Linked DNA regions of Homo sapiens: region 1 is linked to region 2. The links come from fine-mapping of genetic effects on gene expression. Tissue or cell type: tibial nerve. Region 2 holds a variant in brackets; the other region holds the start of a gene. All regions are shown on one strand. Distances are from middle to middle.

Evidence for each region. PIP is the estimated chance that this variant, and not a neighbour inherited with it, causes the effect.
Region 1: it holds the start of NUDT9, and the variant in region 2 is fine-mapped to the expression of NUDT9 in tibial nerve (GTEx, PIP 0.95).

What each region holds. Positions count from the first base shown.
Region 1 is chr4:87,418,433-87,426,580 of GRCh38, reverse strand. It overlaps NUDT9 (nudix hydrolase 9), which reads right to left and starts at 4,008. Exons shown (of 8, transcript NM_024047.5): 1 at 3,569-4,008. The coding sequence starts at 3,675. RefSeq lists enhancers at 1,637-2,138, 2,139-2,642, 3,186-4,120, 4,190-4,239.
Region 2 is chr4:86,690,041-86,698,040 of GRCh38, reverse strand. It overlaps PTPN13 (protein tyrosine phosphatase non-receptor type 13), which reads right to left. Exons shown (of 48, transcript NM_080683.3): 6 at 4,367-4,454. Among named protein-coding and RNA genes, the nearest start is that of PTPN13, 100 kb to the right of the region's middle. The variant T/C (reference allele first, on the strand shown) is at 3,021.

The DNA.
Region 1 (8,148 bases), 730 kb before region 2:
AAAATTAGCTAGGCATGGTGGCAGACGCCTGTAATCCTAGCTACTCACTAGGCTGAGGCAGGAGAATCGCTTGAACCCTGGAGGCACAAGTTGCAGAGAGCCAAGATTACACCACTGCACACCAGCTGGGGCGACAGTGCGAGACTCTGTCTCAAAAAAAAAAAAGGAAATAAGAACATTAAGACCCAGAGAGGTAAATAAGTTTACCAAGGTCACACAATTGAGAGTAGAAATCAGGATCCAAACCTAGGCAAGCTGTCTTAGAATTCCAGGCTCTTAACACTATGTTTTACTATCTCTATTTCATTTTTGGTTCATTCATATGTTTTATGCATTCACAGGAATAAAACAATATTCTACACACATCACCAGTAGATCCTTCTGGAAGATTTGTATGTTGTGGTATGTAAAAGCATTCACTACATCTTTGTAATATACTACCTTTTTTCTAGAAAATGTACATTTGATGACTGGGAGCAGTGTCTCACACCTACAATCCCAGAACTTTAGGAGGCCAAGGCAGGAGGATCACTTGAGCCCAATAGTTTGAGACCAGCCTGGGCAACATAGGGAGACCCATCTCTACAAACAATAAATAAATTTTTAATTAGCCAGGCCTGGTAGTGCGCACCGGTAGTACCAGATACTCAGGATGCTGAGCTGGGACAATCACTGAGCCCAGGAGGTTGAGACTGCAGTGAGTCATGATCACACCACTGCACTCCAGCCTAGGTGACAGAGCAATTAAAAAAGAAAATGAACATTGGAAACCTTCTAGTAATCACAAAAACTAAGTGCAAAACTGTCACTTTCTGGGTTTTTCCAAATTATCAAAGACTGGTAAAATTCTTTTTTTTTTTTTTTTTTTCAAAGAGACAGGGTCTTGGCCAGGCGTGGGGGCTCACACCTGTATTCACCAGCACTTTGAGAGGCCAAGGCAGACAGATTGCCTGAGGTCAGGAGTTCGAAACCAGCCTGGCCAAAATGGTAAAACCCCATCTCTACTAAAAATATAAAACTTAGCCAGGCATGGTGATGGGCGCCTGTAATCCTAGCTACTAGGGAGGCTGGGGCAGGAGAATCACTAGAACCTGGGAGGCGGAGGTTGCAATGAGCCAAGATCACGCCACCGCACTCCAGCCTTGGCAACGAGAGCAAGACTCCATCTCAAAAAAAAAAAAAAAAAAAAGGAAAAGAACACTAGGGACACGGTCTTGCTGTGCCACTCAGGCTGGAATGCAGTGATGCGATCATAGCTTACCACAGCCTCAAACTCAACTCCTGAGCTCAAGCAATCCTACTGATCACTTAGTAGTCTCTGAGCCTACTCTGATCCTACTGATAGTGAGGACTACACATGCATGCCACCAGGCCCAGTTTTTTTTTTTTAGAGACAAGGGTCTTGCTAAGTTGCCTAGACTGGTCTCAAACTCCTGGCCTCACACGATCCTCCTGCCTCAGCCTTCCAAAGCACTGGGATTACAGGTGTTAGCCACTGTGCCTGGCCATAAAATTCTTTTTTTGTTTTTCTTGAGACATTGTATCACTCTGTCACCCAGAATGGAATGCAGTGGCATGATCTCAGCTCACTGCAACCTCCACCTCCCCGGTTCAAGCTATTCTGCCACATTAGTTACCAGGTACTTGGCACATTTGTTAACTGTTGGCTTTTTCTTTCAAGTCAGTACAGTCTCTGGTTCTGGATATACCTGCCTCATGTAGGGTTCCCAGAGTTACAAAAACGAAGAATAACTGTCAAGCAACTTTACACTGTTCTGCTGGCATCTAACAAAAAGAGCATTAGAGATTTCCAGAGAGCACACACGTGTATTCCTTCCTTCCTCAAATCCCACTAAAAGAAGATAAAGATAGATAAAGGGAAATAAAATCCGTACCAGGAGAAGGAATAAATGCCACCAGTGAATGACAGATGGTAACCAACTTCAGGAAAATGAAAAGTTGTTGGAATATTGACCTACAAACCAGAGTAGGACAAAGTAAAATAAGAATATGCACCAAGGCCGGGCGCGGTGGCTCACGCCTGTAATCCCAGCACTTTGGGAGGCCGAGACGGGCGGATCACGAGGTCAAGAGTTCAAGACCAGATCAGCCTAACCAAGATGGTGAAACCCTGTCTCTACTAAAAATACAAAAAAAATTAGCCGGGCGTGCGCGCGCCAGTAATCTCAGCTACTCAAGAGGCTGAGGCAGAAGAATCGCTTGAACCCAGGAGGCGGAAGTTGCAGTGAGCCGAGATCGCGCCACTGCGCTCCAGCCTGGGCGACAGAGCGAAACTCCTTCTCAAAAAAAAAAAAAAAAAAAAAAACGCATTAGGGAGAAATGCTATTCCTACAAGCTGAGCCGAGCTAGAGGTTTCAAGCTTGAAGTCAGTGGGCCCAAGGATCATAAACTGGCAGCGCGACAATAACCATGGAAATCACTCAGTCCTCCTCCCTCCCCAATCTCCAAGCAAAAAGTCCAAAATAGTTATGTTTGTCTCCAAGATAAAATCAAAAGTTTTTTAGAAATGAAGGGGTAGGACCCCTACTGTGAATACTGGTGTTAAGAGTACACAGCAGAAACTTAGGCTTAATAATTTTACAGTTCACACGGAGGAAATAAACAGCTATACTCAGCAGAGAAGTTGCTCCACCACTACTGCAAAGCCTGAAGCAAAAGGCAGGTTCCCAGTCTACCCATCTGGTACCTGCTCACATGCCCTCAACTGAAACCTTCCTATCTAGGCAACCTGGTACAGAGCCAAAAGTCAATTAGCGACCCATGTACTGAAAACAAGACCTATTACTCATATTAATCAAAATATAGACAGATAACCAGTGCCCATCACATGTTCGAGAAAAAGCAACAGAAGGAAACAGGACCAAAAAGACACAGAACAATTGACCAACAGTAAGTAAATTATTTAGGAAATAGATTTTTCTAATTATCATCTTTGTAGATTCAAGACTTTTAATATCTATAAAATAAGAAAAGGCTGCTGCACCTAGGACCCTGTGTTTACTAACTCAAAGAATAAAAACTGGAGAAGGGAAGAACAGAAGGAGGCAGTGTAAGACACCATAAATCCCTAAATTTAACCACAATAGACAAATTATTAAAAAAAAGGAGGTAGATAGTAAATATAATATATTGTCCACCCTGGAAAGGGGACAGGGGGAATAGTGATTTTACTTTTCATTTTACATTTTCAAGTTGTTTTAACTATGTACATGTATTAATACTAATAATAATGTTTTAAGTATTAACCATAAAAAAATGGCACGGGACACCACCACCCCAAACAATTGCTATTTAAACTCTCTCGTGATACTAACAATGATTTACAGAGAATGGCAAATTTCAAAATCAGAAGTCAAGAAGGGTCCCTGCCACTCGTTTTCCTCAAAAGGCAGATAAAATATTTTAGAGCCTTTTTGAAAACTTGTATATGACTATAAAAACCCGAGAGGCAAAGCAAAGCCTACAGAATACGCCAGAAAAAAAAGCTGCTTCCCACCCCCAACTCAAGGTCTAGGGCAAAGGAGCCGGTAGTAGGAGGGTGGAATACCTGAACGCCTGGATGCCGCGGCAGCGCGAGGACCTGATAGTCACAGAGGCCAAGGCCAGAGAGAGAGACACCGCGGCTAAAGCCTTTCCCAGGAGGCGTCCCGCCATGAGCGCCCCGAGGGCGGCTTTGCGATGCTAGGTCGCTCTTAGTTGGTGCCTCCGCCTCCCCACACCCCACAGCTCCGAGTCCCGGCCGCGGGTATCTGATGGGCACTAGGACCTGTCTGCCGTTGGGTTCCCGAACGGGAGTAGCTGTGCCTATCTATAAATCACAGATCAAGAGCCCTCCCACGATAAGAGTCCACCGCTTTCCCCAGTGCATCGAGAAAAATCCAGACCAGCACGTGACGCCGAAGCCTCCAGCGCCAGCTGCCTGGGGAAACCGCGGCCACGAACCTCGTAACTTTCTCTCTGCGTAATGGCGCTTTACGGCCGCGCCGCAAAGCAAAGGTCGTGCGTTGCCGGCTTGGTAGCGCCTTCCTTCTCCGACTTCCCAGACTTCCCAGTCTGCGCAGGCTTACTTGGGGACGCAGGGAACTACCAAGAAAGTGTCAGAGGAAAGGAAAGGTGAAACAGACGAGGAACTGGAACGGGAATAAGTGGGAAAGAAGCCAAGGGGTTTGAGAGAGACTTGCTGCCCTGGGTTTTTGGTTTTTGTTTTTTGAGACAAGAGTCTGGCTCTGTCGCCCAGGCTGCAGTGCAGGGGCGCGATTTCAGCTCATTGCCGCCTCAACCTCCTGGGCTTAAGCGAGTCTCTTGTCTCAGCCCCCGACGTAGCTGGGACTACAGGCACACACCGCCATACCTGGCTAATTTTTGTATGTTTTGTAGCGACAGATTTTTGCCATGTTGCCCAGGCTGGTCTCCAACTCTCAAGCTCAAATAATCCAACTGTTTGGGCCTCCCACAGTGCTGAGGTTACAGGCCTCAGCCAACGCGCCTGGCCCTGCTCTGGTTTTTTTAGGGAGTAAGTTGTTGCGGAAGGACGCAGGTCTTAGCCATATTTTTGAATAATACTTCGTTATGGGAATGAAACCGCCTTTGCAAAATTATGACTGATTTGGGAGGCCGAGGCGGGATCACTTGCAGTCAGGAGTTCAAGACCAGCCTGGCCAACGTGGTGAAACCTCGTCTCTACTAAAAATACAAAAATTAGCTGGGCATGGTGGTAAACGCGCCTGTAGTCCCAGCTGCTCAGGAGGATGAAGCAGGAGAATCGCTTGAACCCGGGAGGTGGAGGTTGCAGTGAGCCAACGTCGCACCACTGCACTCCACCCTGGGCGACAAGAGTGAAACTACGTATCAAAAAAAAAAAGAAAAAACCTCTGCTCCCTGAATGCTCAGGGAGACTGATTTGAGTAATAATAGAACTCCGGTCTCACACAGCTGGCTCTGCATGAATTACTCTTTCTCTATTGCAATTCCCCTGTCTTGATGAATCAGCTCTGTCTAGGAAGCGGGAAAGGTGAACCCCTTGGGCGGTTACAGCAAGAGGAGATAGTCCAGAGACTCAGCCCTCGTATCTTGAAGGGTTTCTTGGTTTTTTGTTTTTGTTTTCTTAACCAAGTTGTCTGCTCCAATTGCTGGATTTCATTCACAAGGCTTTGCTAGGACCAGTTGTGGCCCTTGGAAACTCGTGGAGGAGAAAAGCTGTGAAAATAGGCACACATGCTGGAGGAGGAACAGAGGGCAACACACATAATACTGGATAATAAACTTGAGAGGCAAAAATTAAACAAACCGACAAACAAAGTTGGAAACCCAGACTGTCCAAAGCAGCTTGTAATCAGGCTTACTTCATTTATATTAGCTTATTGATGTGGCAACTATTTGACTTTTACTTACATGATCCGCTGTTTCTGTGGTGTGGTTCCAATACACCGACGTTACAAAACTTTGACCATCTTAAAAGCCAGATTAATCGAATTTTAACAACCATTGTTCTGAAAACTGCAGAACTCTCGACAGGTATTGACTGTTCAAACTACACTGTCAACCTAGACGCTGAGGCACGAGATAGAACTTAAAGCATTTACTTTAGCCAAAGTGAGGACAGCTGCCCAGAAGACCCAGACCCAAGTAACCTTAAATGTGAACTCCTGTCCACCTTTGTTACAATCAGGTTTTTAAAGGCAAAAAGGGGACAGGGAGTTGACTGATACAAAGTTGTAAAGAATTACTGGTTTGTAGAAATAGTATTGGTTAGTGGTTGGCTATACGTTAAGCTATAGGGTGCGAGTTACAGTGTCCAGTGTACCATTATTAGGTTAATTTTTAGCTACTTGTGGCTATAGTAAGCAGTTTAAAGAGATGAATGCATAACAAAGTGGGGAGTAGGATGTAATTGCTGTCTCATTTTAATGTCTCTCTGGGCCTGGTAATTTAAAAGGATTTACCTTCCTCATATAAAAGTTCTTTTCTCGGCACTGAGAGATTTGATTATACTCTAGCATAGCTTCCAGTAGCTTAAGGCCTTGTCCCTAGGCTGACCCCAGATCCCGTTAAAATGCTTCCCTGAAATCAAAACTCAATGCCTGGAGAATTTACTGTTTGTTCCAGCCAAAACTTGATGATAGGCAGATAGGTCCCTGAACCCCTTCTTAGAGCAGTCACTTTAGAAAGCTTGTTTCTCTACCCTTGGTGATGTAAGTCTACCACCCAACACAGTTTCCTCAAAGACTTGGGAGCCATCTCTTTGAAATGCAAATATTCAGAAAGATAACTCACCCTAGCTCCTAGTCCCTGTACAAGACCGGTACCTTGCTTTAGCTAGCACCACTGCCTCCTATCATAAAGATAGAAGTTTGTTTCTCCTCTGGATAAGAGCCAGTTAACAAACCCAAATGGCCTAATCACATCAATCAACAAACCACCGTGCCCCCCTGCCACCCCCCAAAACTTAAGATCCTTTTGTGCCTTTCCTTTTTGCATACCACAGCCTTTTGTTTCAGGGAAGTGTGGGATTAGTTTGTATTACACTCTTTTCCCTATTGGACTAGCATCACTGAATAAAGTCTGTCCTTACTGCTTTAACTAGTGTCCAGCTTTGTTTATTTTGACTGCTTTCTCAGGTTGAGAAGTACTATTATTGAAATGTGCATTTTAAAGATAAATATCAGTACTCGGCTTCCTCTGGTCAGATAAACTTTGCTCTCAGTGTTGTTAATCACTGCTTAAACTGGAAATGTATTAGACCGGCTCTGTTCATCAAGTTCAGCGTGTCCAAAGTCTGTTGACAAATTAGTCACTAGAGAAGACAGGAGAAAAGCAGTGAGTTACAAAGTCAACAATCAAAGAAAGGGAGCAACAGAAAGTAGTTCTCACAGGAAGCTCCTCAGACCCTAGTCTTATAACTCCATATTCCCTAAGGGGAGGCTAGCGTGAACTTAGTTTGATGAACCTGTGCAAACAACTGTACAAACAAAACCAATTCCATGGCACTGAAACAAAACTGCAATTAGCTGGGACAGCCAGATCTCCTGGGTTCCTCCCTTCAGGGATGCATACTGCACATCTGCTCAGGTGTAGTGAGTGCATGTTCTGCAACCTGCTCTTGGGTAGAAACAAAACATCTCCTCATCAAATTACCCACATCCTAAATTAGTTAAACAGATGTCATCAGAATTTAAGGAGAAGTAAGGACTTTTTAAAAATTTATGAAGCATATACCAACTTCAAGGGCATCTTGCAATAGTTGGTGAGACAGACCAAGAACACTGAGAAATGAGAATTTTTAAATAGGAAAGTGACATATGTGATTATTAGAATTGATGAGTATGTTAAAAGTAAGAGTAATTCAGAATCCCAACTATTTCCCTGATATAGTTTGGATATTTCTCCCCTCCAATCTCATGTTGAAATGTATTCCCCAGTGTTGGAGGTGAGGTCTGGTGGGAGGTGTTTGGGTCATGAGGGTGGATCCCTTGTGATAGTGCTATCCTTGTGATAGTGAGTTCATGCAAGATCTGGTTGTTTAAAGATGTATGACACCTTGTCCACCTCTTTCTTGCTCCCACTCTCGCCAAAATGTCAGCTCCCCTTTGCCTTCCACCATGATTGTAGGCTTTCTCAGGCCTCACCAGGAGCCAAGCAGATGCCCAGCACCATGCTTCCTGTACAGCCTGCAGAACCGTGAGCCAATTAAACCTCTTTTCTATTGGGGGAACTCACCCCCAATATTTCAACGTAGATTGTTTCTATTTTCCATAAGTGTCAGACAGCTGAGAAATAAAGAGAAAGAGTACAAAGAGAGGAATTTTACAGCTGGGCTGCCGGGGGTGACATCACATGTCGGTAGGACCATGATGCCCACCTGAGCCGCAAAACCAGCAAGTTTTTATTAAGGATTTCAAAAAGGGAGGGGGTGTATGAACAGGGAGTATGTCACAAAGATCACATGCTTCAAAGGGCAAAAGGCAGAACAAAGATCACATGCTTCTGAGGAAACAGGACAAGGGCAAAATCAGAACTCCTGTTAATGGTCTATGTTCAGCAGTGCACATATTGCCTTGATAAATATCTTAACAGAAAACAGGGTTCGAGAGCAGAGAACCAGTCTGACCAAAAATTCACCAGGAAGGA
Region 2 (8,000 bases):
GCTAAAAGTTAAATGGCAAACAATAAATATACTTTATTTACAAATAAAAGATTTCATATTTGTATTCCTTGGGTAAGATTTCAAGAATATAAAAAGTCTTTGTAATAGAACACATCCCATTTATTTTAGTTAAATTTTAGAAAAAACTTCCTTGTAAATTACATTGTGTTTTAACTATTTTTGTTATATGTGATTAACATTATCCTACACTGGATATCATCATTTACCTTTCAATTCACCCAGACTCAAAAATTCACATCTCTTAGAAGTAAACTTCGAAATGGCATTTCAATATTAAAAGAGGCTCCCCAAGTCCCCATGTATCCTCACAAATGTGTCCAAGTGCGTTTCAAAAGAAAGAAACATGATATTACTAATATGCGTAAGTTCTAAAGCACCACCATGTTGATCTGAATAATAGTGTAAGTTTCCACCTTAAGCTTGGCAGGAAATGTTTGATTTCTTTCTGCTCAGTGAAGCTATTTAATCAGCACTGGCAGTATTAGGTAACAAAGTAGGGTCAGAGAGCCCACTAGTTTAGGCTTTAGCTTCTGTGACAGATCTTGGAGGTAAGATATAAGAAGAGACCTTTTAAGGTCATTTACTTATAGATAAAAATCTTTATTACATTTGAGCTGAACAATTAAATCACTAGGTATAAGGCATTATCCCCAAATTTGCATACATCTTTCCATCTAATTCTGTATCTCCCTGTCCATCTTAACATTTTCTTTATTAAAGACTACTCCTGTAGTCAGGAGCCTAATAAACTAATGCTATCACCACATACAGATTTTAGGTTGGTGCACACTGAAGAAAATGTTTTATTAATAATGTATCACAAGGTTGCTTTGCTGCAATTGACCACTGACAGTTAAGAACTGGCACTGCCAAGTGTCCTAGGTGTCTTAGAAGAATTACTTCTTCAAGAGATAATTTTTTTTTCAATCTTAAACTTTTAAAATTAGTCTATGCAGTTGACTATTAGCTGCTGAATGCTTCTGCCTGGTAATGGCTATAATTAGTATATTTATATTGGTTCTGTCCTTAAAATGAGGTTTTATGAATTTGTAAAAGGTAAATGAAAAGAGCACTTGTGCAATACTACTGTGCAAAGCACTGATGGTTAAGAAGGTCTAAAGAATACTCTCCCCTTATACTTGATCCAAATAAGACTATTATTTCAGTATTAGGACCTTTAACTCTACTAAAAAAAATAGAAACACAAACAAAATTTGGTTAATCCTGAGTGACTAATTGTAATTACTCACAAATTCTCTTGAGTTTAGATACAAGGGAGATTTTATTCTCCAATATGACTATTAGAGGATAAAATCAACAAACAATCTACTTAAGGATTTGATTTCTCTGTTAATTTTGTAAAGTCATGACAGTCAACGCTTCCTTATCTGTATTAGAACAGCATATTAATAATAAGAATTCTAAGGAACTATTAGACAATAATACTAAATCTTTCTTAGTATTATAAAAACAAAATCACAAATAAAAGGCATTAAAATCTGGATTAAAATTTCTGATGTTTTTATTGTTATAATAAGAAAATGGTCCAATAATATGAGGCAAGATGTTTTATTTTTCTTTTGCATACAACTTAATGTTTAACATAGGCTAAATAAATAAACCATAGTCTCACATATTTCTTTATGGAGCTATTAAAGAAGTATACTACAAATATATTACACTTCAAAATCCAGTATTTCCATAAAACCTTTTCTCGTTCAGTCAACAAATATACACTGAACACCTATAAAAACTAATGAACTTAATATAGGTTTTCCCTATCCCCAGCATCTATATGTCCAGAAAGCTTAACTTTTATGAATGTCCTTTATGAAACAAATATACGTATATATGTAAATGACAAATAACCTATTAAAAATATGTTATCAAGTAGGTATAGACTCAGTATAATCTCTTAATTGCTATCTTTAAAATAATATGTAACAATTAATTTCTGAAACATTAAGCCTCTGAACCATTGAAAGTAATAAAATCTAAATTATGTTAGCATTTGATAATCCTTACAATTTGATAAATATTGCAAGGCTCACCTTTTTCTTTCTACAGACCCACACTGGAAAGGGAGATAGGATGGAAGTCATATATACATAAATAAATCATATGTGAATATTTTTTATTCTTAGAAAAATACACTGTCTGCAAAAATTAATAATACAACATTACAGTTACTAAATCAAGAAGTAACACATAAGCAAATAAACTTCAACTACATAACATGGCCACTTAATGGTAGTAGGAAATGATAGTAGGGAACTGCTGAAAGAGGTTAGAGAAAGAATAACAAAGAGAAATAAGAAAGGAGGGAGGGAGAGAGGAAAGGAAAGAGGGAGGTGGAGAGAGCAAAGAAAGAGAGGGAGAAAATAGAAAAAGATAAGTAAGAAAAACAAAAATGTCTTTTAAATCTAATGTTCTACTTATTAAAATGTTCACTATGTCTCCCAAAAGATTATTTCAGCTTGCTATTGATATTCATCTATAAGTTTGTTATTATTCGATTCTAAAATAGGAGACTGACTGCAAATTTGATCAATTAACAAATTGCTGCTATTATTAGTGCTAAAGTTTACACTATATACTATCTCAAATCCTAGAATAGTATAAAAATAAACATATTTTTACCTACAAAAAGAAAGTGACAAAAGTACAGTATGGGGACATAAGTATAGGAAGGAAATATTTGCAAGAAAGGATGAAAAATACTTTCAAAATTGTTACCACACTGTTATTTTTTTGGCCCATATATAAACTAATCATATATGCATTAGAAAAAAACTCTGATCTAACCAGAAATAAATTACTATACCAATGAAATGAAAGCTAAAATATCTTTTCAGATAGTCTTTATTCACAATAATTAAAATGGAAGCACCAAAACAGATACTTAACTGTACCATTACAAAATCACTCCCTTAGAAACAATTTTACTGCTTTTCTTTAACTTACACATTCCTTCCTCTCAGATATGAGAGTTCTGACTC[T/C]GTAAAACATTTGGTCCAGATAGTCAAGGTCTACATTTATTTTTCACAATTAGAGTTGCTCATAGGTTTTAAGTAAGACAGGTTTCTCTGATGCTCTGATTAAATTAAAATCTTAACTTTTTAATCTATTTTATTAAGCTATATCAATTAGAATATATTTTGTTAGAATATATTTAAGCAATCTGTACATTTACTTCTACCTAGCCCCAAGATCTAGGACAAGATCTAAAAAAGTATTTCTGTTAATGTTTAGATTATCATGATTCTCAAAACTGCTTGATAAGAAGAGAACAAAGATAATCAACAAAATCAAAAGTTTATTTTATAAATAAGCCATGCCTGAAAGTAGCAATGAAAAATAAATTGTCACATAAAATTATATTTACTTTTATTTCAAGTGTTTGAAATTTCCATTCTTTTTTTTTTTTTTTTTTTTTTTTTGAGACAGAAGTTCACTCTTTGTTGCCCAGGCTGGAGCACAGTGGTGTGATCTCGGCTAACTGCAACCTCTGCCTCCCCGGTTCAAGATTCTCCTGTCTCAGCCTCCCGAGTAGCTGGGATTACAGGTGCCTGCCACCATGCCCGGCTAATTTTTGTATTTTTAGAGAGATGGGATTTCACTATGTTGGCCAGGCTGGTCTCGAACTCCTGACCTCAGGTGATCCGCCCACCTCAGCCTCCCAAAGCACTGGGATTACAGGCGTGAGCCACCACGCCTGGCCTGAAATTTCCATTCATTTCTTTCAAAAAAATAAATTTAATACTTATCATAGGATACAGAATTATATAATGCTATTGACAAATAGCAAAATCACTACTCATCATTAGTTTTTATTTACTAAGTATCACATGACCTAAGGTAGTATTTGATAACTCCATGATAAAATCTATTTAGTGAGTTATTACTAGCATTTAAAAAAAAAAAGAAATATGATAAAAAATATCAGAGTGCAGTAAGAAAAACGTTTTCTGAAACTTTTGTTTCAGTAGTGTTTATGTTCATAAACATATACATGTGTTTATTTAGTCATGCTTTAAAAAGTATTTTTAATATGAAATACCACGATAAAGTAAATAAATATTATTATTATTGATATACCAATACTGGAAAGGGAAATAAGTTACTCTGGGAATCCTAAGTATATTAATAATGTTTTCTGTATAAGTTTAATGAAATTATTTTTAATGTAGCTAGTGTTCCTGCCCATTCCCTACCTCCAGTTTGTACGTTTACGTTCTAATCATAGTCTCAATTACCAGATTTCAAAGCCAGGTAAGTATAATTTTGTAAAGAAAACAATGGGATAAGGTTAAAGCCTAGACATTTCCTATTAATATACTCTTACCTGTTGGTAATCCTTTTCCTCGCAATCGATCTCGAATAGCCTGGCTTCGATCAGGCTTTTGTTCACTGTTACAGGAAAGCTGATCTGTCTGTACACAGGTAATAAAAAATCAAGTTTGACAAAAGGATCTCCCTTTTGTTTTCATGGTAACTGTTTACAGAATGACACTAGTTACACAGTTTTTGGAGGATGTAACATTAAATAATGAGACTCTATGTCCTATTGTATTTGTAGGGTAATTTGTATTCTTGGATAAGATTTATGTAGACCAGTGCTGGCCAATTCATTTCAGAAAATTAAAAGGGAAGAAGCAGTGACTGAAGAGTAACCTACTAACTAGAAAATACCATCAGATTAAACTTGTTAAAATGAGTTCTATTTGAAAACAGTAAACTTGAAGTCTTCTTTTTTCCCCAACCACTAACTACTCTTAAGTTAGTTTATAATTTAAAAACCACATTAATTTTGGTATAATAAAGCTTTCTCTTGATTATAACTATGAATTGAGGAATTTAAATTACTTTCAGAAATAATTTTATAGATCTTGCCCTTCAGAAATTACATTTGTGAAATGCTAAGTCTTTTTTTTTTTTTTTTTTTTTTAAATATAACGGAGTCTCACTCTGTCACCCAGGTTGGAGGACCTCGGTTCACTGCAACCTCTGCCTCCCAGGTTCAAGCGATTCTCATGCCTTAGCCTCCAGAGTAGCTGGGACTACTGGTGCATACCACCACACCAGCTAATTTTTGTATTTTAAGTAGAGACAGGGTTTCACCATGTTGGCCAGGCTGGTCTTGAACTCCTGACATCAAGTGATCTGCCTGCCTTGGCCTCCCAAAGTGCTGGGATTACAGGCGTGATCCACTATGCCTGGCCGAGAAATGCTAAGTCTTTAAATGGACGCTCTGAGGGATAACAAATTTAAATCAATGCTCTTTTAAGTTCCCTTTAAAACAAAATGTAATCTTAAAGTTTAATAGCTTTAGCAAAGGGTATCTGCTTGAAATAAAGTATGTCAAATTAGGTCAAACTCCACACTATAAGGGATAAAAAACTGGACAGACCACTGTTTTATTCAGGTGGCCAAATAGAGGAGAAATGTCAATATAAATGGAAGAAGAGAGAATGGTGAAGAGAAATTACTTAAATCTAGCACCAAAAGCATGCATACATATTTGTTTACACACACACAAACTCGCACATACCACAGAAATGTTTTAATATTGCTCCATTAGTGAATTTTGCTGAAGTATGGATTAAAAACCCATCTAAGGTGGTATATTCAAGGCTCAAGCATTATGTTTTCTACCTATAAGAAGACTTGTAAATGGAAGTATTTCTGAAATCATGTTATCAGTTAAGTTGCATAAATGATGTTAGTCCAGATTACACTGTACTGTCAGTGACTGAAAAGACAGTATTACTAACATCCCACATCTTTGAAAATTCCTGCATTGAAGTTAGTTACTATTAATAACTGTTGTTTATTGAACAGTTACTATATGCTAGGCACACACTTTGTGCTATTTAATCCTCAAACAACCTCATATGGTAGACAATATTATCCTCATATTATAAATAAAGGGAGAAATAGCAAAGAAACTTCTAAGGACCACAAAGCAGCTCATTAATGTGGAAATAACTACTTTTACAACAGTTTAATAATATGGATGATTGACACATATTATTATTATTCCTATTTTGCAGATAAGTAAAATTGTGGTCCAAATATTATAACATTAAATCAGTGGAAAAACCTAGACAAGTAAGCTGGCTTGCTGACTTTTACTCACGCTAATTAATGTTAAGTAAGAATGATGGTCACTCAGAATGAATTTCACACCAGTGAAAGACTAACTCATTCTGTCAGCTACTGGAGGCAACAAAAGCTTTAAGGAATATACTGGGGTCAAAAACACCCCAGTTCCAATTATGTCTCCATCATTTACCGTATCTGTGACTATGTGCAAGTTATTTAATCTTTCTTAGCCTTAGTTTTATGCCCTCTAAAATGAGGATAAAAGTATCTCTATTAAATTGAGGTTGTTATGATGAATAATGTGATAATGCACATCAACCCCTTAGCATAGTGTCTGGCACAAAGTAAACAAACACTTAAAAAACAGTAGCTGTTGGAGTTACTTCTACCCAGTGATGTCTAGGAGATGAGGAAGAGCAATAGAAAGGTAAGGGGAGCATTATTATACTTAGTAAAAATTTGTCTTTGTGAAGAGAGGCTCTCTACATGCTGATTCCAACTGATCCTTCTATTTTTCTCTCCCATTAAATAACCCCACAATACACCCCATGTCATACTGTTCCCCAAACATTCCTGCTTTCCCATTTCACAGCCTTTATCCAGGTTCACTTCCCTCTGCCGAGATTATCTAGCCTATAGGATACAGTTCGAAGTGCTATTTTTAATTTTAACTTTTTTTTTTTTTTTTGAGGTAGGGCCTTACTCTGTTGCCTAGGTTGGACTGCAGTGGTGCAATCATGCCTCACTACAGCCTCGACCTCCCAGGCTCAAGTAGTCCTCCCATCTCAGCCTCCTGAGTAGCTGGGACTAAAGGCATGCATCACCATGCTCAGCTTCAAAGTGCTATTTTTCAATGCAGTCATAATTTGTATCCTTTTCCTTTAAACTCTCATAGCTGTTAAAATTTTTACTATGTATCATTTTATAGCCTTCTTTCATTTTATAATTAAGCAAATGGTTATGGCATTTTAGATAAGAGCTCCTAGATCAAATATTTTATTCAAATTTGTATCTTCTATAATCCCTAGCACAGGTTTCATACATAAATGAACAATAAAGATCCACTATAATAAAGAGAACTAAATGCTAAACCTTAAAGGGATGAAGATTTTATATGTAATATGGGCAATTATTAGATAGGTAATATAATTTCTATGGTGACAGAAAAAAAATTCTTCATTCAAAGACAGAAAAAAATATCTCTCACAATTTTACTATAGGAGTAAAATTAGCAAGCAGCACAAAAGTCTTAGAGAAAGTGTGGTGTAATAAAAAAGTCCCTGGACTGTCTAATAGGAAACTCAAATCCCATAGTTGTTTGGGTATCAGTTTCCTTATCCATAAAGTGAAGTTTTAAAGAATATTAGTCTTATGAGAATGTCTGAAAAAAAGACCTCCAAGACCAAGAAAGTTTGGGAAATGCTTTATTTACATGCCTATTCTTCTTGAAGGTTAGTAATATAGTCTAGTATATTAAAGGTTCTAAGAAGTTCTCCAGTGAAAATACATTTAATTTCCTTTAAATAGTTTCTTCTCAAGCTTATTTGGTCATAGAGGAATTTTTAAAACAAAAATATTGAAAACAATATGAGAAACTTTGGTCTGGACAGATGGTTTTCAAAGATTTTTTAATAGCTTTACCTTTGTTCAAAAAAATCACACGCAGAAATATAAACAGATCAAATAAAACTGGAGCTGCTCTAGTTAAAGAGGGAAAATGGGCAACCAAGAACTCCATTTATTCGGCCTCTACTTCCTACATTTCCCTTCACTATAGAACCGCAAAGGTTTCTTGAGGGAGAGTTTACAAACCATTTGTCTAGAAGATCTGTGGGCCTGTTTGTTATCAACTGAAAAACTGTGCAGAATTTGAA